Linked DNA regions of Homo sapiens. The protein of the gene in region 1 purifies or fractionates together with the protein of each later gene. This does not show direct contact. Each region holds a gene or a part of one and is shown in the gene's direction. Other genes may lie near its edges. The genes, in order: CABCOCO1, RAP1B, RDH11, UBLCP1, LETM1, GNPDA2 and RMDN1.

Evidence for each region.
Region 2: the proteins of CABCOCO1 (region 1) and RAP1B purify together in Homo sapiens (affinity purification with mass spectrometry; one large-scale study listed by BioGRID and IntAct). This does not show direct contact.
Region 3: the proteins of CABCOCO1 (region 1) and RDH11 purify together in Homo sapiens (affinity purification with mass spectrometry; one large-scale study listed by BioGRID and IntAct). This does not show direct contact.
Region 4: the proteins of CABCOCO1 (region 1) and UBLCP1 purify together in Homo sapiens (affinity purification with mass spectrometry; one large-scale study listed by BioGRID and IntAct). This does not show direct contact.
Region 5: the proteins of CABCOCO1 (region 1) and LETM1 purify together in Homo sapiens (affinity purification with mass spectrometry; one large-scale study listed by BioGRID and IntAct). This does not show direct contact.
Region 6: the proteins of CABCOCO1 (region 1) and GNPDA2 purify together in Homo sapiens (affinity purification with mass spectrometry; one large-scale study listed by BioGRID and IntAct). This does not show direct contact.
Region 7: the proteins of CABCOCO1 (region 1) and RMDN1 purify together in Homo sapiens (affinity purification with mass spectrometry; one large-scale study listed by BioGRID and IntAct). This does not show direct contact.

What each region holds. Positions count from the first base shown.
Region 1 is NC_000010.11:61,756,929-61,760,428, forward strand, and holds part of CABCOCO1 (ciliary-associated calcium-binding coiled-coil protein 1), read left to right. Parts: intron 1-3,130; coding exon 3,131-3,253; intron 3,254-3,500.
Region 2 is NC_000012.12:68,617,399-68,620,898, forward strand, and holds part of RAP1B (ras-related protein Rap-1b isoform 1 precursor), read left to right. Parts: intron 1-3,500. UniProt on the Homo sapiens protein: GTP-binding protein that possesses intrinsic GTPase activity. Contributes to the polarizing activity of KRIT1 and CDH5 in the establishment and maintenance of correct endothelial cell polarity and vascular lumen.
Region 3 is NC_000014.9:67,682,265-67,685,764, reverse strand, and holds part of RDH11 (retinol dehydrogenase 11), read left to right. Parts: intron 1-560; coding exon 561-750; intron 751-3,500. UniProt on the Homo sapiens protein: Retinol dehydrogenase with a clear preference for NADP. Displays high activity towards 9-cis, 11-cis and all-trans-retinol, and to a lesser extent on 13-cis-retinol.
Region 4 is NC_000005.10:159,269,790-159,273,289, forward strand, and holds part of UBLCP1 (ubiquitin-like domain-containing CTD phosphatase 1), read left to right. Parts: intron 1-118; coding exon 119-210; intron 211-570; coding exon 571-656; intron 657-738; coding exon 739-854; intron 855-2,233; coding exon 2,234-2,332; intron 2,333-3,500. UniProt on the Homo sapiens protein: Dephosphorylates 26S nuclear proteasomes, thereby decreasing their proteolytic activity. Recruited to the 19S regulatory particle of the 26S proteasome through its interaction with 19S component PSMD2/RPN1.
Region 5 is NC_000004.12:1,821,657-1,825,156, reverse strand, and holds part of LETM1 (mitochondrial proton/calcium exchanger protein precursor), read left to right. Parts: intron 1-1,381; coding exon 1,382-1,513; intron 1,514-2,025; coding exon 2,026-2,169; intron 2,170-2,844; coding exon 2,845-2,976; intron 2,977-3,500. UniProt on the Homo sapiens protein: Plays an important role in maintenance of mitochondrial morphology and in mediating either calcium or potassium/proton antiport. Mediates proton-dependent calcium efflux from mitochondrion.
Region 6 is NC_000004.12:44,713,057-44,716,556, reverse strand, and holds part of GNPDA2 (glucosamine-6-phosphate deaminase 2), read left to right. Parts: intron 1-1,897; exon of another isoform or gene 1,898-1,961; intron 1,962-3,500. UniProt on the Homo sapiens protein: Catalyzes the reversible conversion of alpha-D-glucosamine 6-phosphate (GlcN-6P) into beta-D-fructose 6-phosphate (Fru-6P) and ammonium ion, a regulatory reaction step in de novo uridine diphosphate-N-acetyl-alpha-D-glucosamine (UDP-GlcNAc) biosynthesis via hexosamine pathway.
Region 7 is NC_000008.11:86,505,887-86,509,891, reverse strand, and holds the start of RMDN1 (regulator of microtubule dynamics protein 1), read left to right. Parts: upstream 1-1,205; 5' UTR 1,206-1,271; coding exon 1,272-1,400; coding exon of another isoform or gene 1,401-1,442; intron 1,443-2,779; coding exon 2,780-2,897; intron 2,898-2,944; exon of another isoform or gene 2,945-4,005.

The sequences.
Region 1 (3,500 bases):
ATGTATAAAAATAGTTATAAAACTAGCTTTATTTAATTTGTTTCAACTATTCATAGACTTGAGGAAATTATAACGTTCTTTCAGAAAATCTAACTTAATAAAGCTGACCATGTCTCTCTGTTTTTAAATAGATTTTATTACAGAACCAGTGATGTTGTAAAACATGAGGTTTTGTTAAAAAAAAAAATACAAAGGCCTAATTGTATTTTTTAAAGAAACTATTGCATCAGACGGTTTCATTTAAACGTATTTTCTGGCTCTGGGCTCTCACCACAATTATTGATTCTAATTTTCCTTAAACTTGCTTTTTAAAAAGGCTACCATTTTTAATGTGAAAAAAATCACTGTGATGCTTCTGGGCATTATGTTTATTTCAAACCATATATTTGATAATGTACTTTATTATTATTAATGAAAAGACTTTATATTTACCCTCATCTGAAATTGGGACATTTCTTTCCCTTGCAGTATCTCACTAACACAGCTAAGTGTAATTCTTCATAAAGGAGAAAAACTGAGCTAGGGTTTGGTTCACTAATAGTATGCAAAACACCCTGAAGAAAAGAAATTCTCACCCCCCAGTTTTTGTGCACCAATTAAATCAAATTAATAGTTATATGGGCTACACTCATAAAAATCAAGGCAAAGAAAAGCTCAACTCTCAGTCAGAACTTCAGGTTCTTGGGAGTTTCACTCCACCAAAGAAATGATGATGTGGAAGCTGGGAAGTTCCAAGTTTCCAAGTGTGTGCCCAGTACACACACACACACAGACACACACACACACACACACACACAGTGCCAAAGACCAGGAAACTGGGTAGTTGGTGAGTCATTCAGATGAGCCTTATAAAGAAATCCAGAGGACAGGGATGTGAGGGAAAGAAATGAGAGAATTGGACACAAATACCTGCTTACATTTAAGTGTATAATGTGATGGGGAAATGGGTACAAGTAGAAAAGGGCCAGTGGTAGAATCTGCTACTACCAGGCTAGAGAGGCAACCTATTGAGAACTTCCACAGGGGGTGAGGGCAAGTGAGCAGGAAGGCCTAGCCTGTGTATGGCCAAGCTTAGCAACAAGACAAATATGGTGACAGTAGACCAGAAAAAATTCTACTGCATTAAAAACAACACTTTTACCTTGCAGATTATCTCAGTGCCTGCAGTAAATTCAGTAGACTCCATTCAATTCCTTTCTCTCTTCTTTTCAACGTCTCACTCATCCCCACCACCCCCACTCCAAACTTCCTGTTCCTTGGTGTATATTAAAGTCTATACCACTAAGTAAATACCTCATCATCTTCCCTTGTCTCTGATTCCCATGTGCAGCTTATTTATTTTACCTATAATGTTTCAGAGGCCGCTAAAATATGTTTAGCTGTCTCCTTTTCCTAGCTTGGTAAAATAAAGAGCAATAGAAGGTAAAGGAAGGATGAAAAACAAGAGTGCTGAAAAAAGGTACAAATCATTTCGTGGGAAGGTGAAATTCTTGTTTGCCCCATTTAGGAAAAATGCAATGGCTCGTGGAAGTGCATAAGAGAAAAGAACTGTTCTGATATGTTTTCTCAATATTCTATTTTGATTAACATTTAGTTGACTTAAGATAAACAATCTGGAATGATGTCACCTAACAGAATAAAAATTAAGTGCTTGATAATAGCAATAATTTCCAAATATGGCAACTTAATGACGTATTACAGTTTACTGAAAACCACAAAGGACAAGAAGTCAGCACACCAGGGTTTAATTCCCAGCCCTGTCAAGAAGTAATTATTTGACCTTAGGCCAATCATTTAACCTCTTGGTTTCCAAATCTTTTTGCCTATAAAGTTAGGACACGTTGGGGCTTCTATATATTTACACTAAGCAACAACTTTGTATAAAATCAAGTTAAAATTAATAATATTAATTCAATGCAAAACACATAAGCATTTGTAAGACCAAAAACAAACCTTAGCTTCCAGCGCATTTCAAAACTTATCTAAATCAAAAACATTAATATTTAAATGATGACATGTAACATATTTATTTGAAATATTGTAGAGACATTAAAAATGAATGCATTATTATTTCATTGGGTTTTTTTTCAGGCTTCACAGGATGATAATTATTTCGTGAATTTATGCATTTTCAAAATTTTGTCTTCAAACTTATGTTTGAAGCTCTAATCTCAGGGCCTGACTTTGTCAGCATACTGTGGGTGGCTTCATCCCTGGGCCACAATAACAAGCTCCTATAAAGCAAAACAATTTACCAGTTTACAATGAGGCATGTAGTAGGCATGAAAACGAGAACCCTCAAGTGGGCACGTCTCTACAGATCAATTGGGATGGGAATTGAAATTAAAATCAAATGTTGCTTATTAAACATGGAATTAGAACAACTAATTAAATGAATCAAATGTTTAATGTTATTAATACCCTCATCTCCCCTTTCCCTCCCCCAAGTCAGAGTGAGATGAGCACTGCCAAAGTTGGCTTCCTTGACTCTCCTTTTCCTTCATTTCCAGTGTTAACCAACCGTCAGCCTCCTTCTGAGTGGCACGCTGTTGCTAAAGAATTGTTAAATACTCATAGTGAAGTCTTGCCTTGCCCTGTGTGTTTTTGACAAATCTCCTTCCTGATCTACTGGCTTCATATATTAATCTTTGCAGCCCTTATTGTCTTCATCACCAAGTTCTTGATGGCCACTTCAGCAGCTACATTCTGCTGAGTAATAGCAGTCCCCATCAGGATGACATTAAGTGTATTAAACACCTAATCCTCTGCCAGAACTAGAGAAGATACACAGAGCATCTAAAACTTGGTTCTCCACCTACAGAGGGCTTGTAGTCAGGAGAAGGGGGATACTGAAGCACAAAACAGTTAAGAACGAGGAGATACTACATGAAATCCTAAACCACAGAGTATCGAAAGGAAATGAGACAGTGGGAAAACAAAGTGTTAATTTTGAGAAATGGAGCTCAAAAAGCACTAGAGGACAAAAAGGGCAATGGCATCAAAAATTCAAAGGAGGTGGCACTTGAAAGATAACAGACTTGGAACTATGGTACATATATAACGGAACTGACCGAAACTGTGGTTGCTCACCAAAGGCTCTGTCATAATTCAACTTTTTTCTTCCCATCAGCAAGTGATAGAGGTTGTCAAGTCTGCATGTGGCCCTTTCCCAAATCCTCTGGAAGAAGGAATCTCATTTGATATTTATTCAACATTCATAGAGCCCCCCACAATATTGGATACGGAAATGAAGGTATATTTCTTTTTGTCTTTCCATTCACCCTACCTCATCATTATATTCTCTTGGGGTGGGAGGAAACGAACTAAATGTTTTCTTCATTTTCTTTGCCTCTGATTTTTCCCAACCAAATACAAATATTTCTCTAAGTGTTGATTCAAAGATGAGTCCGCTGATGGTAGTTCAGCAATTTTAATCTTTTCCACCCTACCCTTCCTAATCTCCACCTTCACTTTCCCCTGGGCACCACATTGGTACCATG
Region 2 (3,500 bases), on another chromosome or scaffold:
TCTTGAATTGAGGGATAGGATGAGATATATAACATATGTTATCTGTTGTTTTCTCCTACTGCTCTTGAAATTAACAAACTTGAGATAGTGTACTGATTTGTATTTATAAGATTGGCTGAGTTCAAATATGTCTTTTTGACGTTCTTACCAATGTTTAAAATATAGAAAAGTATAAAGAAGAAAATGAGTATCATCCGTAATGCCATCACTACAATGACTTTTTTAAAGCAAAATGTGTACTTTCCTTCTGAAGCTTTCCAACCTCCTTGCCTCCTCAGTGAGAATGATGACATACTGTTGTTAGAGTTGTTGAGGATCAAATGCAGTATTACTCATGAATGTTTCATAAACCATAAAATAATACAGTAATGTACTATTTTTTTTTTTGACAGCCTCACTCTGTCACCCAGGCTGGAGTGCAGTGGCACAAACTTGGCTCACTGCAGCTTCAACCTCCCAGATTCAAGCCATTCTCCAGCCTCAGCTCCCCAAGTAGCTGGGCCTACAGGCGCATGCCACCATGCCCAGCTAATTTTTGTATTTTTTGTAGAGACGGGGTCTCACCATGTTGCCCATGCTGGTCTGAACTCCTGAGCTCAAGTAATCTGCCCGCCTCCACCTCCCAAACTGCTAGGATTACAGGCATGAGCCACCATACCCAGCTGTATTAGTTCTTGTTCTATAAAGCTTTTTTTTTTTTTTTTTTTTTTTTTGAGGTGGAGTCTGTCGCCCAGGCTAGAATGCAGTGGCACAATCTTCGCTCAGTGCAACCTCTGCTCCCAGGTTCAAGCAATTCACCTGCCTCAGCCTCTCGAGTAGCTGGGATTACAGGCATGCGCCACCACGCCTGGCTAATTTTTTTTGTATTTTTCTTAGAGACGGGGCTTCACCATATTGGCCAGGCTGGTCTCGAACTCCTCACCTTGTGATCTGCCCGCCTCGGCCTCCCAAAGTGCTGGGATTGCAGGCGTGAGCCACCTTGCCTGGCCCTATAAAGCTTTTATTCTCCTATGGCATTGCTTAAGAATCCCATTAAAGTATGAATAAGGACTAATAAATAATTGTGAGTTTTGATTAGTGTAACAAATGAATTACCTAGATCAGTATTTTCAAGGTATGGTCCAAGGAATCCTGGAGGTCCCCTAGACATTTTTGGCGAGTCTACAAGTGCAAAACTATTTTTATAATACTGAGACATTCTTTGCCGTTTTCTTTGTAGTGACATTTGTACCTGTAGTATAAAAACAGTGGTGGATAAAACTTCTGGCGCTTTAGAATAAACCAGGTTAGAGTACTTCACTGTCCTAGTAATCATTGTATTATTCACTGCCATGCACTCAGATTTTTTTTTAAGTTTCACCTAAATGCTCTTGATGAAGAAGTAAAAAAATTTTAAACTAAATCTCTACCTTTGTACACATCTTTAATATACTGTAACAAAATGGGAAGTATGCTTAAAACACTGGCGAGGCCATGGACAGCAAGCCTCCCAGCACTTTGGGAGGCTAAGTCCAGCTTGGGCAATGTAGTGAGAGCCTGTCTCTCCTATTAAAAAAAAAAAAGTTAGTGTGGTCATGCACATCTACAGCTACTCTGGAGGCTGAGGTGGAAGGATCTCTTGAGCCCAGGAGTTGGAGGCTGCAGTTAGCTGTGATCGTGCCACTGCGCTTCAACCTGGGTGACAGAGCAAGACCCTGTCTCGAAAAACAAAACAAAAACACTTGGCAGCATACTGAAATATAATGGTTGTTTCTAGGGAAAGTATTTGTGTGATTGAGTCACACGCTGAATCAATCTTCATATAATGCCATTTTTGCTTAAAAGAATGCCAGACTTGGGCATTAGGCTGACATTTTCTTGAAAACAGTGAGGCTTTGCTTTAGGGAAAATAGTGGTAGTATTTATGGTCGATGATAAAGTTCCTAGATTTTAAGCAAAAATTTTAGAAAGCTTGTATCAGCTGCTGTAAGTATATAATGAAATCTGTCATTATTTGATTATCTGCATAACTGAGTCAGTATTTCCAAATGATCAATGCATAGTATTATAAAAATCATACATGGGTAAGAAATCTTTACAAAGTGTCAGCTAGACCAATGGATTTTAATGTTATAGAGAACATAAAAGTTTATCAATAAGGTATCCTGTTCCATATTGCAACCAATTGCTGAGCTTTGGTGTAGTGTCAAAGACCAGTATCCAGATTTATCTGAAAATGCTATTAAAATATTCCCAACTGTCTAATGTATTTTGTATTACTTATTTTTCCATGCTTTGCTCTCAGTGTTTAATGTCTTCTTTGATTTATTTTGTTTATATTTTTGTTGGAAACAGGAATGGGAGCCATAGATAAATGTGAAGCAATGTTTTCATGTGCTTTATCTTAAAATCTCCTATTAATATATAATCAGTTTAACTTCTTTGTAGTCTTCTCTGTGCATTCCATTCAACTTTTGGTCTTGGTAATGGATTAGATAATAGTTATTTTTAAGCCTATTTTTGGTTTTAATATTTGTTTTGTATACCTGACTGCTCATCTATAGACAGAATTCCCTTGTGTCCAAAGTCTAACATAATCCTTAAGTAGATTTTTAGTAGTTGACTTTCTCAGTTTTAAAATATTTGATAACTTTTCCATAGTAAAGCTGTAAGTTTCAAGTTTAGTAATGTCTTTTTGACCTGAGAATTTGGTGTGTTGTCTTACCTTAAGTAGACACTTTTCAAAAACACACCTGTAGAATGATCCTTTTTTTACCTTTCAGGAGAATGCTGTTTCTTGGTGGTGGTGGTTTTTTTATTTTTTTATTTTTTTTTATTTTTATTTTTATTTTTTTTAAGACTGAGTCTCTCTATTGTCACCCAGGATGGACTGTGGAATGCAATGGTGCAATCTCAGCTCATTGTAACCTCCTCCTCCCAGGTTCAAGCGATTCTCTTGCCTCAGCCTCCCAAGTAGCTGGGATTGCAGGCACCACCACCATGCCTGGCTAATTTTTGTAGTTTTAGTAGAGACAGGGTTTCACCATATTGGCCAGGCTGGTCCCGAACTCCTGACCTCAGGTGATCCGCCCACCTCGGCCTCCCAAAGTGCTGGGTAGAGCCACTCTGTGGCCTTCTTTTTTATGTTAATTTAAAAACATTTGTAGCAATCCTTGTTAAACTGTTTTTATAAACTCATGGGATAAGTCCAAATTTTATTTTCCTTTTCTTTTTTTTTTTTTTGAGACAAGGTCTCACTGTCATCTAGGCTTGAGTGCAGTGTCACAACCACGACTCACTGAAGTCTCGACCTCCCGGGCTCAGTTGATGCATCTCAGCGTCCCAAGTAGCTGGGACTACAGGCGCATGCCACCACACCCAACTAACTTTTGTAGAGACAGGGTTTTGCCATGTTGCCCAGGCTGGTGTCAAACTCCTTGGCCTAATCGGTTCTTCCACCTCAGTCCTCCAAAGTGCTGGGATTACAGGAGTGAGCCACCGCACCGGTCTGGTTCCACATT
Region 3 (3,500 bases), on another chromosome or scaffold:
GCACCCCTGTAGTCCCAGCTACTTGGGAGGCTGAGGCAGGAGAATCGCTTGAACCTGGAAGGCAGTGGCAGAAGGAAGATCATGCCACTGCACTCCAGCCTGGGCAACACAGCAAGCCTGTCTCAAAAAAATGAAGGGGATGGGGTGGGTGTGGTGGCTCATGCCTGTAATCCTAATACTTTGGGAGGCCAAGGTGGGAAGATTGTTTGATGCCAGGAGTTCAAGACCAGCCTGGTCAACATAGGGAGACCCCATCTCTAAAAAAGAAGGGGGTGGTCAACGATGTTAAGTGCTGCTGAGAGGATGAGTCTTGGCTCTGCTGATTCCTGACTTGAGTTTCCAGTCAGAAATACACAGAGGTCCTTAGCACTGTCTACTCTAGAGCCTTCTTAGATCTGTGAGATGGAAGTATAAATTACTGTGAGCAGTACTTCTGATGTCACCATGGGCAAAAGAGTCCATATGTGAAGGTCACATGCTTATTTACATCCTTTTCTGTTTTGGGCTATTCTGCAAAATCAAGTCCTGTCTTACCCTCTCTTCATGCCACCCCCAACCAGGCTCTGGCGTTACGACGTATTCTGTACACCCTGGCACAGTCCAATCTGAACTGGTTCGGCACTCATCTTTCATGAGATGGATGTGGTGGCTTTTCTCCTTTTTCATCAAGACTCCTCAGCAGGGAGCCCAGACCAGCCTGCACTGTGCCTTAACAGAAGGTCTTGAGATTCTAAGTGGGAATCATTTCAGGTATGAATGTTATCTCTTTTTGCAGATGAGATTTATTGCTCAAAGGAGATAATTTGGGTTTGTCTGGGTATACCCTTTTTTAAAAGTACATTGTCTCATATAGCTTTTGTCTTTTAACTCTAGAGTTTTTACCTTTTAGTAGGGGAATTTGACTCTCTTTTGTAATAACTGCTACATTTGATTTTATGCCATCTTTTATACTGATAATTATGCATTCTGTTTGTTTTCTTCCTGTCTTTGTTATGTCAGTCCAGTTTTCTTTATTCTTTTTTGGATTCCTAATTCTATTGTTTTACATTAAAAAGAATTTAAAAAGAATTTGAGGCCAGGCGCAGTGGCTTACGCCTGTAATCTCAGCACTTTGGGAGGCCAAGGTGGGCAGATCACCTAAGGTCAGGTGAAACTCCGCCTCAAAAAAAAAAAAAAAGAATTTGAATCTGCATTTCTCTATTGTCCTCAGGATTGAAATACTATGGACTCCCCTCTCAAATAAGCGAAGACATTTAAAATGATTTAAATGTAGAGAATTTTGAATATAACACAGGGTTAGATAAAATAGTGCACTGAGCCTGCATATAATGGAGCCTCAGCTACCATTAACCCATGGCCAATTCTGCCCTATCCCCATTCTCTACCCCTTTCCATATTTTTCTTCTCCCATATTATTTTGAAGCAAATCCCAGGCATCACATAAGATCAAAATTTTAACATGTTTTTACCTCTACTTCAGGTTATTGTTGAAATGACCTGAAATTTTAAGGAAGTAGCTGAAAATAGCATTAAGATTGGAAAGAAAGGCAGACAGATTATGAGAGGCCTATAATGCCAGCCTTGTGGAGGAGCCCCAGAGTTGTTTCAGTAGACAGACAAAATCTGGTCTGTGCTTTAGCAACTTTGTTTCATGAATGAATAATTAACCTAGTGAGAGAGAGAGTTTCAGAAAGTTGTAATGAAAGGAATGGTAATGTGAAAGAGGCCCTGAAGCAGCAGAATTTTTATCACTGGATGATTAATTAAATGAGGGGATGAGGGAGGCTTTGCTAACCTGAATTTCAAGCCTGAATGAGGTTGATGATGACATTAACTAAGACAGCAGACATGGAAAAGTAATGTGTGGAACTTAGGGTTCTTGGATTCCAAAGCAGTTGAAAGGGACTTTGTCTAGCTTAAGCAAGAAGGAAATTTATTAAAATATTAGTAGGGAGAGGAGGGACCCCTAGGTTGAAAGGGAAGACTGAAGAGCCAGGCTAAGAAGTGTCAGAGTGGCAGTCAGCCAGCCGGGGCATTGCTGCTAGAGTGAGCGAATGCCAGCTATCTTTAGTGTTTAGGTTGTATTGCTTATCATCCATTCTCTAGGGAGGAAGCATTGGATCTCCTTCCTCCTATCCCTTCATTTTTACTCTTTTGATTAGAGGCAAACAGGGACTTTATTAATGCTCTCTTCAAACTATATTGAGGGGAAAAGGTGATTCTGCAGAAGGAAATCAGGTTGCTATTGCCGAAACAAAGTAGAATGTTCAGCCAAAGAGTAACAGTTGTCCACTGTGTAACAAACCTGGCTCTGTACATGTTGCATGTGTGTTATCTATAAGGCATGCAAGTAGAAATGTATAGCAGATAGTTGGAAATGTGGTTCTGAAGTATAAGAAGATAGATTTATATAGTATACTGGATTGATTTTCCAAGAGTGACTGGATTCTTCTTCCCTAGAGATTTTAAGAAAAAAAAAAATAACCCTTTATCTTGGTTTTGACTGAGTGGTTTAAAGAAAGTCAGCTCTAAATCCATAACTTACTATTGGATTGACTTTTGAAGAGCCTTTCCTGTGCTATGGATTCTTAATTCATTTTGAAGATCCAACAGCAGCCGTGTAGACCACCATCAAGAAATGAACATAAAAGTCTTTTGATTGAAGCCTTAAGATTTTTGCACTGGCTCTTCTTTCTGCCTGCAACCACTAGTCTGCTTTATGTCTCTAAGAATTTGCCTTTACTGGACATTTCATATAAATGGAATCATATGGTATGTGGCCTTTTGTGACTGACTTCTTTTACTCAGCTTAATGTTATCAAGGGTCATCCATGCTAAAGCATGTGTCAGTACTTCATTTCTTTTTATTGCTGGATAACATTTCATTGTATAGATTTGCCACATCTTATTTATTCATTCATCAGGTGATGGGCATTTGGGTTTGCACTTTTTAGCTATTTGAATAATACTGCTGTGACCATTTGTGTAGAAATTTTTGTGTGGACATTTCTCTTGGGTACATGGAAGTGGAATTTCTGGGTTATATGGTAACTGTGTTTAACTGCTGAGGAACTGCCAAACTTTTCCAAAATGACTGCCCCATTTTACATTCCCACCAGCAGTCTATGAGTATTCTAATTTCTTCACATCCTCAGCAACACTTGTTATTGTCTCTCCTTTTGAGTTTAGCCATCCTAGTGAGTATGAAGGAATATCTTGTTTTTATTTTCATTTCATTTTCCTACTAATGATGTTGAACATTCTTTCATGCGCTTTTTGGTTCATTTGTTTCTTTGTTGGGGAAATGTCTATCAAGTCCTTTGCCCATTTTTAAGTTGGATAATTGTCTTTTTATTGTTGAGTTACAAGAGTTCTTAATAGTCTAGATGCGAGTTCCTTGTCAGATATATAATTTGCAAATATTCTCTCATTCTGTGGGTTGTCTTTTAACTTTCTTAATGGTATCTTTTGAAATGTAAAACTTAAATTTTGATGAAGTC
Region 4 (3,500 bases), on another chromosome or scaffold:
CAACAAAAATTGCTGTGACATCTGTACCAAACCTTTTAATGTTAGGGTTTTATATAATGGAATAGTGAAACCAGCACCTGAACTTTAGTGAGAAAACAGTCATTTGCTTGTATTGTAGGCAAACCTGCAGAAAATGATGTTAAGCTTGGAGCTCTCAAACTGAAACCAAATACTAAAATCATGATGATGGGAACTCGTGAGGAGAGCTTGGTAAATGTTTACTTTTTGTTACCATTTGTCCATTTGAAGATATTATGATTTATACTACACTGTTGTATTATAGTTTTAATTGTGGTAAAATTGTCAGTCTAGCAATCAATGAAAAATAAAACCCGCACCGTGAATGTGTTATTAACTGTATAAGTATAGTAGTAGCACAAATGATCAAATTTAATATGGTAAATCTGCCCAGGAAACATACATAACGAATTATTAATTGTGGAAATTTTCCAGTATGGGCTTAAAAGACTCTGGAACTCAAATTGTATCTCTCATTTTATTTTTATGCTATGCATGTATTTGTTATATTAAGGATAATATGGTAGAACAAAACTTTTTCCATCTTAATAGGAAGATGTCTTAGGTCCACCCCCTGACAATGATGATGTTGTTAATGACTTTGATATTGAAGATGAAGTAGTTGAAGTAGAAAATAGGTAAGTGCTTTTCGCTTTAGAAGTAATCAGTTGTCATGTGAGAACAAGTGAATATTTTATCTAATTATATGTTTTCCATTAGGGAAGAAAACCTACTGAAAATTTCTCGCAGAGTGAAAGAGTACAAAGTGGAAATTTTGAATCCTCCCAGGGAAGGGAAAAAGCTTTTGGTGCTAGATGTTGATTATACATTATTTGGTAAGTCAGTTAAGAATGCTTTTCATTTTCTGTTACCCACAACAACTCTTTTTTTCTTTTCTTTGTTTTTTTTTTTTCTTAGCAACTCATGGTTCTCGTGAAATACTTGAAAACTTTTCTTATTACAAAAGTAAATTGCTCATTGTAAAAAATACAGATAAGCAAAAAAAAAAGTCATCTGTAATCCTGATACCCAAAGATGACCACTCTTAGTAATTTGATATATATCTTTTAGACTGTTTGTATGGATCTCCTCTAAATCTTTTATTTAATAACACATTGAACATCTTCTCAGTAAAATATTGTTTATTATGAATGATATATATATATGTGTGTGTGTGTATATATATTTTTTTATTTTTTTGGCCAGAAAGTATTCTAGTTTATGGATGCATCATCATTTAACCATGTTATTCCCTGTTGATTATAAATAATTTTTTATAAGGAATATTTTAAAAATTATGTTTGATATTTTATCACTAGTTTTCTGTTTAGTTATATTCAAGCAGATTCTTGAATTTAAAATTTCTCATGTAGGCCAGGTGCAGTGGCTCACATATGTATCCTGGCACTTTGGAAGGCTGAGGTGGGAGGATTGCTTGAGCTCAGGAGTTGGAAATCAACCTGGGCAACAGAGCAAGACCTCATCTCTAATAAAAACTAAAAATACTCGCTGGATGTGGTGGTATGCACCTAGTCCCAGCTACTTTAGGAGGCTGAGGTGGGAGGATCACTTGAGCCCGGATTAAGACTGCAGTGAGCTATGGAGTGCCACTGCACTCCAACCTGGGTGACAGAGTAAGACCCTGTCTCAAAAAAAAAGAAAGAAAAAAATGTTTTGTGTTCATTGAAAAAGAAAGATGTTCCTTTTATGTCTAATGTTGGCAAGAAATAGTTAACTTCTGATACTGGAATTTATTTCTAACCCTAAACCTAAAACATAAGTTAATGTACAGTTTTTAAAAATTTAATTAATTGGTTAATTGGCCTGTCATTTTGATGAAATGTGATTATATCTGCAAGGTAGATGACTAAAGGTGAGTATAAGTGGACATAGTTTGTTTTTCATTATTAAAAAATAACATCTAAACTTTAGAGACTAGGTGAGAAAAAAATTTTCAGTTTACTACTTAAGCCTGAATTTTCAGTATTGCTTTTTGCAAATTGAACAAAATTGATCGACTAAAATTGGATCTTAAGGATTTTAAATTGTGTTTTGAAAGACATCTTTTTGTCAGCCAACGTAATTCAGTCTGAAGCAGTTTGCAATGAAATGTTTATGTTTGCATTTCGTAATATATTACATTTAATAATAATTGGTATTAGGTACTTGTTCATGATGGTAAACTAATAATTATTTATGATCAATTTTCTTTTAGACCACAGGTCTTGTGCAGAGACTGGGGTAGAATTAATGCGGCCATATCTTCATGAATTTCTAACATCTGCCTATGAAGATTATGACATTGTTATTTGGTGTAAGCTGTATTTTTTTGTTTAGATTTCCGTGGAAATAGGTTGTTCCATATATTATTGTGCTGTATAAAATGTGACTTAAAATGACCTGTGTTTAAATATGAAATAGTTTTCATTTTTTAGCAAATTTCTAAAATGAAGCATGTATCACAATATAAACTTAAACATATATTGGCCAAATACCAGTGAGATAGTTAATTTAACTATAGGACATGAGTACATTATAGTGTAAGAATAAAAATGACTAATTTTCCCAATGACCCCACCTTGATTTGAAGTTTTTCCTTCTGATTTTTTTTTTTTTTAACTAGGCACATATCTTTAGGGTCTCGCTGTGTTGCCCAGACTGGTTTTGAACTCCTGGGCTCAAGTGATCCTCCTGCCTTGGCCTCCCAAAGTGCTGGATTACAGGCATAAGCCAATGTGCCCAGCCTTTCCTTCTGATCTTTGCTGTGAAATTCTTGATGCTTCAGAATATTTTTCTTTTCTCCTTTTTTCCTGACTCCAGTTTTAAAATACTTGGAAAAAGGTGTTTAAAACAAAATCACAGTGATATAGTTCTCTGGAAATAAAGGCAACTTGAATTACTTAAGGAAAAATTAATATGTGGACTAAAGCCAGTGACATTGAAATTGTGGTCTGCGGACCATTTCAAGAATGTACAGGTCTGTGATAAGATACTGAGTTTGTTCCAAGAAGTAAATATACTGTAATCGTAAGCACACTATTCAGTTCAATTAACGTTTTTTGGTAGCAAGATTTTCTTGGAAAATGAAGCAATGCATTGATTTACATCCCTCCTCCCCACAAATATTTAAAGTTGCCTCTTGGCAATGTCATAAGCAGAGAAGAGTTATCCTGACTGAATTAAATGAAGTCCCATCAAGTAAAGGTGCTACATTTCATTGTACTAGGTCTTTGAGAGAAATTATGTTAGTTGTTGCAGTCTGTAAATTCATTTTGTATTTTTCCTTATAATCAGAGTACTTCCGTTGTTTGTGATATGTGAGTTCCATGTGAGTTCACAGCTGTTAAGATTAAAATTATTGTCAAAATATATAATTTTCTGGTTTAGTAAGATAAGGTGAAGAAAGCTTGCTGGTTTGTTTAGCAACTTTGACATCTAAGATGATATTTGAGAAAAAAGTTTATCCTTTAAATGTTATTAAA
Region 5 (3,500 bases), on another chromosome or scaffold:
CCCTTCTCTTGGCCACGCCCTGTGCTGGTGCCTGGTTCCCAATGCCATCAAATTGAGTGGCTTGTAGGTCGGAAAGTGACAGCCCCAGCCACTCACTCTTACATGGAAAGGTTAAGGGGTGCAGGGCTCCAGCCGGTTTCCTCCCGGTGCCCTGGCACTGGCATGCCCTTGTTGGCAGTCATCCTCCTCCCGGGTTTTTCACACAACCTGCAAGTGTAGATGAAGGTGTGTGTACACACTTCTCCTCTCGACACAGACAGTATTTATGGCGTGATCCTGTGGCACCCCCTGCCTTCCACAGCCGCGTCTTCCATCGGATTCCCCAGCAGAGCCTTCTCTGTGTCTGGCATGGGTGCTGACCTCCCTAGCACTCTGCCCAGCCTTCTGGAGCTCCGTGGGGATATGGGCCACACACACAGGGGTGTCTGAGCAGGGGGGCAGGTGCTGTCCCTGCCCAGGCCCCTCGGCCCCCAGGGGAGTGTGGCGCATTGGGGGCCCGAGTGTCATGTGTTCACACTTTTCCTTCTCTACCCACCTCTCGGTGGTGCCTTTCTTCTCTTAGGGTTTGTTCTCATATTTTCTCTACCCACTTCTCCTCAGCGTTGCCTTTCTTCTCTTAGGGTTTGTTCTCATGTTTTGCCCCGTGTTCAGTTTGTCTCTAAACATTGTCACGGTCTTTCTTGCCCATTTGGAGATTGTCTTGGTGTTACTCAAGCAGCCAGCCCCGGAACCTGGCCTGTGCAGAGCCTGCAAGGGCCCGAGTGCTGACCGGCCTCAGTGACACTGCCTCTGCGGGCCCGTATATGTTGACCTGGGCTGGTCTTGTTTCTTTGTTTGAGACAGAGTCTTGCTCTGTCACACAGGCTGGAGTGCAGTGGCGCGATTTCGGCTTGAAACAACCTCCGCCTCCCTGGTTCAAGCAATTCTTGTGCCTCAGCCACCCAAGTAGCTGGGACTACAGGTGCACACCACTATACCTGGCTAATTTTTGTATTTTTAGTAGAGATGGGATCGCCATGTTGGCCAGGCTGGTCTCGAACTTCTGACCTCAGGTGATCCGCCCACCTCGGCCTCCCAAAGTGCTGGGATTACAGGCGTGAGCCACCGCGCCCGGCCCCTGGGGTGTTTTTAAGTGAAGAGTTGGTGCCCTGTTCTGAGGCCCTTGGGGTCCTCGCTGTGGGGGTTGCTGACCCCCAAGCCTCTCTGGTGTTTTGTTTACTAACGCCGTCATCGGGTCACGCAGCACAGCAACAAACAGACCTTGTAGAACTTGAGACACTGTCTTCTCTGAGAGCTATTCTGGTGATGAGATGGGCGGACCTGCTGTGGGGCCAGCAGGGTTGGGGGGCTGCCCATCTGCTGAACCTGGCCTTGGTTGCAGTGGCTGGACCTGCACCTGCATCAGGAGATCCCCACATCGCTGCTCATCCTGTCCCGGGCCATGTACCTCCCGGACACCCTCTCTCCAGCCGACCAGCTCAAGTCCACACTGCAGACCCTCCCAGAGATTGTGGTACGTGCTGTCGGAGACCCCTTTTACCTCATCTCTTCATAGGTGGCTCCGCTCTTCTGGGGTGGGGGGAGGTGTGCAAGCGCACTCATTCCTCAACCATGGGCGAGGAGCCTGCCTCCCACCCCCTCGCGAGTGCCCCCACCCAGCCACCTGTCCCCTTCCTTCCATCCCTCCTCACCAGCCCCTTGCCTGCCATCCCCCGTGTGGCACAGTTGCCAGTGGTCCCGACCTGGCCACGTGTTGGCTGCTGTGGATCTGGGCCGCGGCCCTTGGAGCTGTGTCAGCAGCGCCTATGCTCCTTCCCACATGTCAGGAGTCATCGGGCGAGCGCAGAGGGCGGCCCAGGGGCCTCCCAGCAATTGCGGGCAGCACCTCGGCAGTGCCTTCTGTCCTGTGTGTGTGAAGCCCAGGTGGTGACGGGGCAGGGGACACAGGACACAGGACAGAGGTGAGGGGCAGCAGGGGCCTCTGGTGGCTTCTGGGCTCACCCACAGATGTACCCTCTTCTGAAGGCAAAGGAAGCACAGGTGAAAGTGGCCGAGGTGGAGGGCGAGCAGGTGGACAACAAGGCCAAGCTGGAGGCCACGCTGCAGGAGGAGGCGGCCATCCAGCAGGAGCACCGTGAGAAGGAGCTGCAGAAGCGCTCGGAGGTGGCGGTAAGCGGTGGTCCTGCTCCGTGCCGCGTGGGGCTGTCCTGAGCCAGCCTCCCTAGAAACCCCCGCACGCCCACAGTCTTGGCCTCCCGCATGCTTGCCCTGCAGCTCTGTCCTGCATGTTTATTTCCTCCTGGAGTGGTCAGGGAGGCAGGGTGCCCGGGTGTGAGGGCTGCAACTCTGACATGGGGACTCCCCGATGGCCACAGTGGTGCTCATGGGAGATATACCTTAGCCGTCTCAGAGGGGCAAGCTTAGCATATGGCAGTGCCCACCCTCTCCTCAGGGACTTGCTGTGAGGGGCGCTGGCAGAGGAGCTGCAGGCTCCCCCAGCCTCTGGGCTCCTCTTCAACGCGGGCCCTGTGGTCCTCTTGGGTCACATGCATGGTGCCCACCCACAGGCTCAGCCTCCTGCTCTGCAAGTGACAGGGCAGCTTGGGGGAGTCTTGGGGAGACCAGAGATGGATAAGGTGCTCTAGCCTGTTCTGGAGAGGGCCCCAGGTGACCTGGCAGCTGCATGGAGCCTCCCTAGGGACCTTCTGTGGCAGGTGTGCTGCCCAATGTCACCTGCAGGCCTGCTCCCAGTGTGGCCTCTGCCATATGTTCTGAGCTTCGGGGAGCAAGAAGACTGCTTCTGTGTGATGGCGGGCGCTGGGCTGGTGTCGCCTTGCCTTTCAGAAGGATTTTGAGCCCGAACGTGTGGTAGCTGCTCCCCAAAGGCCGGGGACCGAGCCACAGCCAGAAATGCCTGACACAGTCCTGCAGTCAGAGACCTTGAAGGACACTGCCCCGGTGCTGGAGGGCTTGAAGGTAATGAGGCAGGTTCTGGGGCCCTGGAGGCTGAGGAGGGCATGGCCTGGCTTTGTGGACAGTTGTGGGGCAGGGATGGGGACAGGTTAGCTGGGGCATCTATAGCCCTCAGTGAGAGGAGATGGTGCAAGGGGTTGAGGATGAGGCCACTGGGCCCCTAGGAGGCTTGGTGGTTAGGAAAAGAGTGAGTCCGGCCGGGCTCCGCACTGTGCCTGGGTGCACAGCAGCTGACGCTGCCGTGAACTTAGCACCCTGGCCCACAGTGTGGCAGGTAGAGATGCCAGTCGGCAGGTTTCAGGGCCCTTTGCCAGCTTGCCCAGACAGTGAAGGGGTGTGGAAGCCAATGTGGCCCCTCAAGGTAGAGCCTCCTCCACAGGCCCAACCTGCTGTCACCTCCTGTGGGGTGATCTGGGCTTGGAGCATCTTCAGACTCCCCATGCGAGCCTGTGAGGTGCAGCCTCCAGGCGCCTGTGCTGCCTACCTGGGGCGCCTCCTGGTACCTTCCATCTTGAACTCGCGGGCTG
Region 6 (3,500 bases), on another chromosome or scaffold:
TTACCAAATTCCACTTGTAATTTATATATGTGTGTGTATATATAATCTACAGTTAAAAATAAGTTTTTTCCTTTGTAATGACAACGTGGTTTTCTATTATCAGTGTAAACTATCGCAGACAGCTAGCTAATTGCTATAAGAATAGTTCAACATCAACTAAACTAAAATCAAAATTTTTTGCCAGATTCTTTAATATTCAACTAAAAATACTAATGCTGTAAATTATCTGTATATAACTTATTATTAACTTAATAGAACACTGATCAAAATTACATGAATTTGATCTTCAATAGAGCTGTCCTGAGGTTAATTTATACTTGAAGTGGCCAAGTATGGTTGAGATAGTTGATTATCATTGGGGGAAATTTGGTTTTAAAGTCAGACGTAAAATTGTATCCTGTTTTAGCCACTTAGTATCTGTATGACCTGGGAAAGTTTATTGAAGTTCAGTATAGGTACATCATTTGTAAAAGAGGATTAATATTAAACATTCCAAAATTTGTGAGAATTAATCATGTTGTAACATGTATAAAATGCCTTACACAGTGCTTGGTATATAGTTGGTACTCCATAAGTGCTACTTCAGTCTTCTCTTTCTCTCTCAACTGTAAATGCGGAAATAATTGTCCCTTAGAATTACTGAATTCCTTGGGATTTTTACCGAATTCCCTCTAGGGACATCCAGGAAGACTGAAATCTTCTCTTTAAGATAGTTTTTACTTCTACCTAGCAGAGTCAATAACATTTACTTTCTTGATAGAATGGTTGTTTATTGGAGCAAGAAACCAAGTTAGACTATTGCTTTTCAAATTAGAAGGTTATCTGTTTTAAATAAAATTTACTAATATTACTTCAGTAATCCTAGAGAACATTTGCATACTCCTGCTTTGTACGTATGACTCAATTTTGAGATAATTAACCATTTGTACCTTCCAATATTCAGGCTAGACAGTAGATATTTGAGAGTGTCTGAGGGGTGCATAGACCATCTAATCTTTAGATTTTCTAAGCTCCACACCAAAATCTGGTAGAATTACTGGAGTACCACATACTTCAACTGCTTATATCAAAAAATGTTTTCACTCATTTACTATAATGCAAAAAAAGGCTCTTAGTTGTTTGAGGTTCATTATTAAAAGTGGCTGCTTGAAAATATCTTCATTTGTAGACTTTCTTTCCCCCTTGTTAATTTATTGACCTTACATAAGTATGCATGTGACAAATCTCTTGTAGACCCAAAGGTAGGAAATAGATTTTACTATGGGGAATAACACTGATAAGAACACTTGATTTTATTCCTTTGCCTGCCTTCCAGAAAGCATTCATAGCATAAAATAATGTTTAAGCCTGTAATTCTTATCCAAGATGTCTGGTAGAACTTTCCTCTTTCCTTATAACTTTAAATCATTTCGTACTTCTTTTCAGCTAATTTTTTTTGGGAGGGGGTTATGTTTCTTCAGTATAAACCACCTCAGTTCTCCTTTTGAAATAGATGTTGCATAAGTTATAATTATATATGTTTATCACTGACACCACTAAAAAGAATTTGACTTGGTTTTTTAACCAGTTTGTCTTAAGCTTCCTGTAGTTGTTTCCCCGCTCCTCCCCGCTCCCAAATATATTTTAAGAGAGTTCCTGTGCCTCTTACATTAACATCTTCACTGTAGTCATGGATGATCCAATGCCTGACATTTTATATGTACCATCTAAAGGACATAATTGTGCAGAGAGAGAGAAGGATTATTGCATTTTCTTTGAACTTTTCCTTATTTGGGATGCCCTATTATTGGATATGTATTCATGAAAGAATCTCATTTGTTGATCTAGGTTTATCATCATTGGATTTTTAGATGAGGATTGGCATCTGGGTCTTACAACTACCCTTCTTTTGTTCCAGGGTTTGGTTAATAAAAACTCTAAGAACTGTGCCAAATGGGATCAAAATATCAGCTTTATTAAAGGTAAAGTTGAAATAGAGATTGCAGTTTGGGCTTGAAGCCAGAATGGGGTTTTTCACTCCTGCCCTTTGAATTGGAAACAGTAGAATGAGAAGAGCTCAAAAATGTTAATCTGCTATTGCTCATTCCAGGGAATTAGAGCAGAGGTCCCTTTCCTCTGAGGGAAGAGGGAAAGAAAAAGGAGGAAATACATACTCAAATGTTCTAATTCCTCCTCTGATGGCAAACGTGTTCAGAGAAAGGGTAAAAGGTGTATCATGCAATTCCTGACTTAACCCCAGCAATAAGATATACAAACATGGATTTTTAAAAATAAAATCTAGGGCTGGGATCCGGTGGCTCACACCTATAATCCCAGCACTTTGGGAGGCTGAGGTGCGCAGATCACCTGAGGTTGGGAGTTCGACACCAGCCTGACCAACATGGAGAAACCCCGTCTCTACTAAAAAAAAATACAAAATTAGCTGGGCGTGGTGGTGCATGCCTGTAATCCCAGCTACTCGGGAGGCTGAGGCAGGAGAATCACTTGAACCTGGGAGGCCGAGGTTGTGGTGAGCTGATATCGTGCCATTGCACTCCAGCCTGGGCAACAAGAGTGAAACTCCGTCTCAAAATGAATAAATAAATAATTTTAAAAATCTAGTTTTACAATAAAATCTAAATATATAAACTTTTAAAATATCTTAACGCAGTAGTGTCTTGGGTTTTTTGTTGTTGTTGAGACAGAGTCTCGCTCTGTTGCCCAGGCTGGAGTACAGTGGCTTGATCTTGGCTTACTGCAACCTCCACCTCCCAGGTTCAAGCGATCCTCCTGCCTCAGCCTCCTGAGTAGCTGTGACTACAGGCACTTGCCGCCATGCCCGGCTAATTTTTGTATCTTTAGTGGAGATGGGGTTTTGCCACATTGGCCAGGCTGGTCTCGAACTCCTGACCTCTGGTGATCCACCTGCCTTGGCCTCCCAAAGTGCTAGGATTACAGGTGTGAGCCACTGCACCCGGCCTAATAGTGTTTTTAAAAAGTAAAAATAAAAGAAGACAGTGGAGAAAATGTTAACCTTCTGATTTGGTTGCATGCTTGGATTCTTTGCTTTGGTAGAAAAAGGAAATAACTAATGGGATCAAAAGTAAATTAACTGGAATGATTCTAGGGTAACTCACAAACTGAAGGAAAAGTTAAAACAACCAAGTCTTTGGAAAAACAGAGAACCTCAGATCTCAGAAGTAGAAACTCATCAATCTTCTCCCTGCAGTGCTGTCATCCAGTGCTTCAGTTCACCATGCTGTCTTCGTTAACTGTATCCCTGGTCAAGATTCAGATCCAGACAGATATTTTGATTGGCTCAGCCTGAGACAAGTGCTTATCTCTAGACCACAGTCACTTTACCTAAGAGGGATATAGGAAATTAAAATTGTTCCAGCCCCTCTGGTGAGGGGAGCAAGGCAGAAGAGAACAAGGTGGGAGGTGGAATAAACTATACCGAGCTGACCAAAGAATAGCAACCATACATTCATTTATCCAGCCATTATTTAATAAGTGCGTCC
Region 7 (4,005 bases), on another chromosome or scaffold:
TTGGGAAAAAACAGCTAGGTTTCAGAAGTTGGGAAGGAGATCTATATATTTTTAAAGATAGACTTTAAAGACATAATCCTAAAGAAATACAGCTGATTTAATGGGACTAGTGGAGGTAGCAATCATATAGTAGAAGGAGCACTGGACTCAGAGTAGAAAGACATGGATTCCTGTCTTCTAACATATCCTTGGTTAGGTTAATACATCTCTTTGAGTTACAGTTTTTTCATTTGTAAACCTGGGATACCACTTACTTCACAAGGTAGTTCGGAAGATCAATACGACTATGTATTAATTCCCTATACAGTATTAAAAGTACCATAGAAATGCAACCTAATTTTTTAAAACCATGACTCGCCTCCCTTATTACCCATAAGATTTTTCGTTAAACCCATATAGTAGGTACTCCCTTTGCAGTCTGTGTTTCCACCCACCCTGATCAGGCCTCAAGTAGGATCCAAAATTTCTTCATTTTCCCACAAAAGAATTCCACTCGAGCAAGAAATTTTATTTTACTCGAGTAAAATAAAATACTTTGCTCGAGTAAGTAAAACATCTTATTGAAGAATTTTAGGGGAGACCAGGGTTTGTTTTTGTTTCTGTTTTTTACTACACATGCCCTAGCATTCAAGGGCATCAGTATCCTTTCCAGAGGCCTCCTCCCGCTAGTTCCTCTTCCCAAAACGCTTTGCATTTTTTGTTTCTTTGCTCTGGACTCTCTCTTGAATCTACCCCCTTGAGTCGCTCAGTCGAAGAGACTGAGACTTTCCCTTCTTCATGTTGGGCAACATAATTCTTCCAATTATTTACTTCCAAAAAAGACCCACTAGTACCAAGATTCAATCTACTTTTGAAGGCAGCAGATAATTAAAATGACAATTTTTTTTCTGGCATACTTGTATTCTCGGGTCTATTTCCGAGCTTTCAGTTCTATTCTGGCGACGAATCCTTGTGCCCAAACCATGAAAGACCCCCTAGAGAGATGGAGCAGAAACAAGTCAGAGCGCCTGAAGAGAGCGCTCTCACGGCCTCAGTCCTGGACGCAGGCGCGGAAAGTCCATTAAGTCCCACCCAATCGGGGTATTTCCCACCCCCTAAGCCCGTGCACCGGAAACCATGGGGGCGGAAGAGGTGCTGGGCAGGAGGCGGAAGAGGTGCTGTGCAGGAGGCGGGCGGGCGCGGTTCTTTCCGGAAGGATTGAATCTCCTTTAGCCCCGCCCGCCTCCGTAGCTGCCTGAAGTAGTGCAGGGTCAGCCCGCAAGTTGCAGGTCATGGCGCTGGCTGCTCGACTGTGGCGCCTTCTGCCTTTCCGACGTGGAGCCGCCCCGGGGTCTCGTCTCCCTGCGGGGACTTCGGGCAGCCGCGGGCATTGCGGCCCCTGTCGATTCCGCGGCTTCGAGGTACCCCCGTGGTCCTGGCTCCCGCTCCTCACTTCCTACTCAGTGGGTTCCGGCTCCCCCTTAACTTAAGTGGTGGCGGCCCCGCGCTGCCTAAGGAATGTGGTGAACCGAGGAAAGAACTCGGGGCCACTGTGCCTGGAACGCCCGGACAGGTCCCTTCCATTTTGCAAACCTCCACTATCCTTAACTGGGGCTGTCAGAGAAGGAGTGGGGTTTGCCCCCACGCGCCCCAGAAGCTGCCTGCTACCCGCCCTTCTTGTGCGAAATGTAAAACAGGACGGGAAAGAACCTTGACCGCTGTGAAATTATTCTCCCTGTAGGCGATGACAGATACAACAGCGCTTGAGGCTGCCCCTTTCAGACTTTGAAAAGTGTGGTGTGTGATTTAAAAAGTTCTACGACTCAGAAGCAGAGATTTCATACTGTTTAGGTTTTTGTTTAAAAATGTTTATTTCTCAGTTGCCCGTTGTATCTGCATAACGTCAATGAAGGTTGTCGGCATGTTGTAGTCTCAGTTCTGGTATTTCTATTAGACTGCTCGTGGGCCTCTGTTTATTCTTGTCAGGGAATTGGAATGGCATTAATGCATATGATATATTTCACATGAACTAGGGGTTTCATTATTTTAAACTCAAATTTTTAACTGCTCAGTTAAAATCTTTCAGAATTATTATGGGACTGATGGTGGGGAGGGGTGGTTAAAATTTGGCATATTCCCCTTCCTTGGAAGTTTATAACCAAATGGGGAGGTTATAGATAATATAGGCAGAGAGATGGGAGGAGTTCTAAGTATGAAACTAGTTAGCCGTAAGTTTTCAAATTGGAACAATGATGAGTTTGAAGTCCCATTTTAGGCCTGGCCCCTTGGCTCAGCCTGTAATCCCAGCACTTTGGGAAGCCGAGGCGGAAGGATTGCTTGAGTCCAGGGGTTTGAAACCAGCCTGGGCAACACAGTGAGACCCTGTCTCTACAAAAAAATTTAAAAGTTAGCCATGTACATTTTTATATGTAGTAATTACTATATATGATAATCTTGTCTGTAAGATTCATTTTTATTATGTGTTGGTGTCTCATATTTTACTTCATACAATTTGCAATATCCATGCATTTGCAAATAAGTTGTAGCAAATAAGTTGTAGCTCTTCCTTTCCAGCAGGAGTGTGATTTTTAGATGAGCGGCGACTCCAGGGGATATCTTTTTCTCAATAAGATACGCTTTGAGATAGTTTTACTAAAGATTTTGATGAAGTAATTTTTAAGCTTCCAGTATTATGATCGATTGCTTTGGGGGTGGGAGAAAATTCATGTAATTTTTGCTTGGGGTAGCAGTACCTTCAAATTTTCAAAGTTTGTAACTCTTAACATAATTGTTTCCATAGGTAATGGGAAACCCAGGAACTTTCAAAAGAGGCCTTTTACTCTCAGCTTTGTCGTATTTGGGTTTTGAAACTTACCAGGTTATCTCTCAGGCTGCTGTGGTTCATGCCACAGCCAAAGGTAAGCATAAATTAGATATATGGAACATTTAGAGTTTTTTTGTGTGCGTACATTCAGAATTTTTATTTTAAAACAAAGAATCAGGGTAATGTTAATAATAGAAAATCCATATGGAAATATTCACAATCTGCTCAGTGAGAAATGGGAAAACAACTTCCCTGCCTAACTGCCAACCTACTGTTTGAGGAGCCAGAAGTTGACGTGAAGTTGGAAGAAGGTCACCTTTTCCAGCTAAACCCCACTCCATAGCTATGTGCATTTTTATTTGAAGTCTCCGTGACCAGAGGAAACAGTGAGAACTGAGAACCAAGATACCGTTATCAGCAAGGGTTTGGCTAAAGGGTCTGAGATGTGTAAGCACCAAGAAGGGGAAGGGAAATTGAGCAACATATGAAAAAGGGGCTGTAGGAACACAGAAAAAATAAGTCAACAATAACCTATTTCCATCCAGAGCAAAGGGACAGTGCACACATATTCATCCTCTCAAGTGTGGGCTACACTGTACATTGACTCATACTATCTCGAACATGGTCTGTTGGAAAGATTGAGACCCCCTAAGGGCACTTGGCATAGGACCACAGTGACATGGTAACAGACATAGACAAGCATGGCATGACCCTAAAGGCAACAACACACCTTTAGATAATAATCGTTCAGAAAAAAATCCCAGAGCTGAGGTTATAAATTCCAAGTTAGCTATAAACATTCTTTGGGGAATTCCTTTAAAGATATGAGTTAAAATAAAACAAAATCAACACCTAAAATCTCCTAAAGCACAAAATGGAGAAATAATGAATCTCTACCAAGAACTGATTATTTTAAGTTTCTCATTTGGATGGCTCTCCCACCAGATAGGTGGTGGGATTACTTCAAAAGTAATGAGTCTCCTACAAGGAGGAGTTGTTTGGTCCAGTGAGGGGGAACAAGCTTTCTAGAAATAACTTTCCCTTCCCTTGACTCCATTCAAAATTAGAACCCATCAACCACCATTAACTACAATGCCCATATTAGTTAATAATCCTAGATTTCAAGTACTACTACATGTAAACTATTAAAAGAAAAAAGTTCCAAAGGAAATCAATAACTTTATTATGTAGGCATATGACTT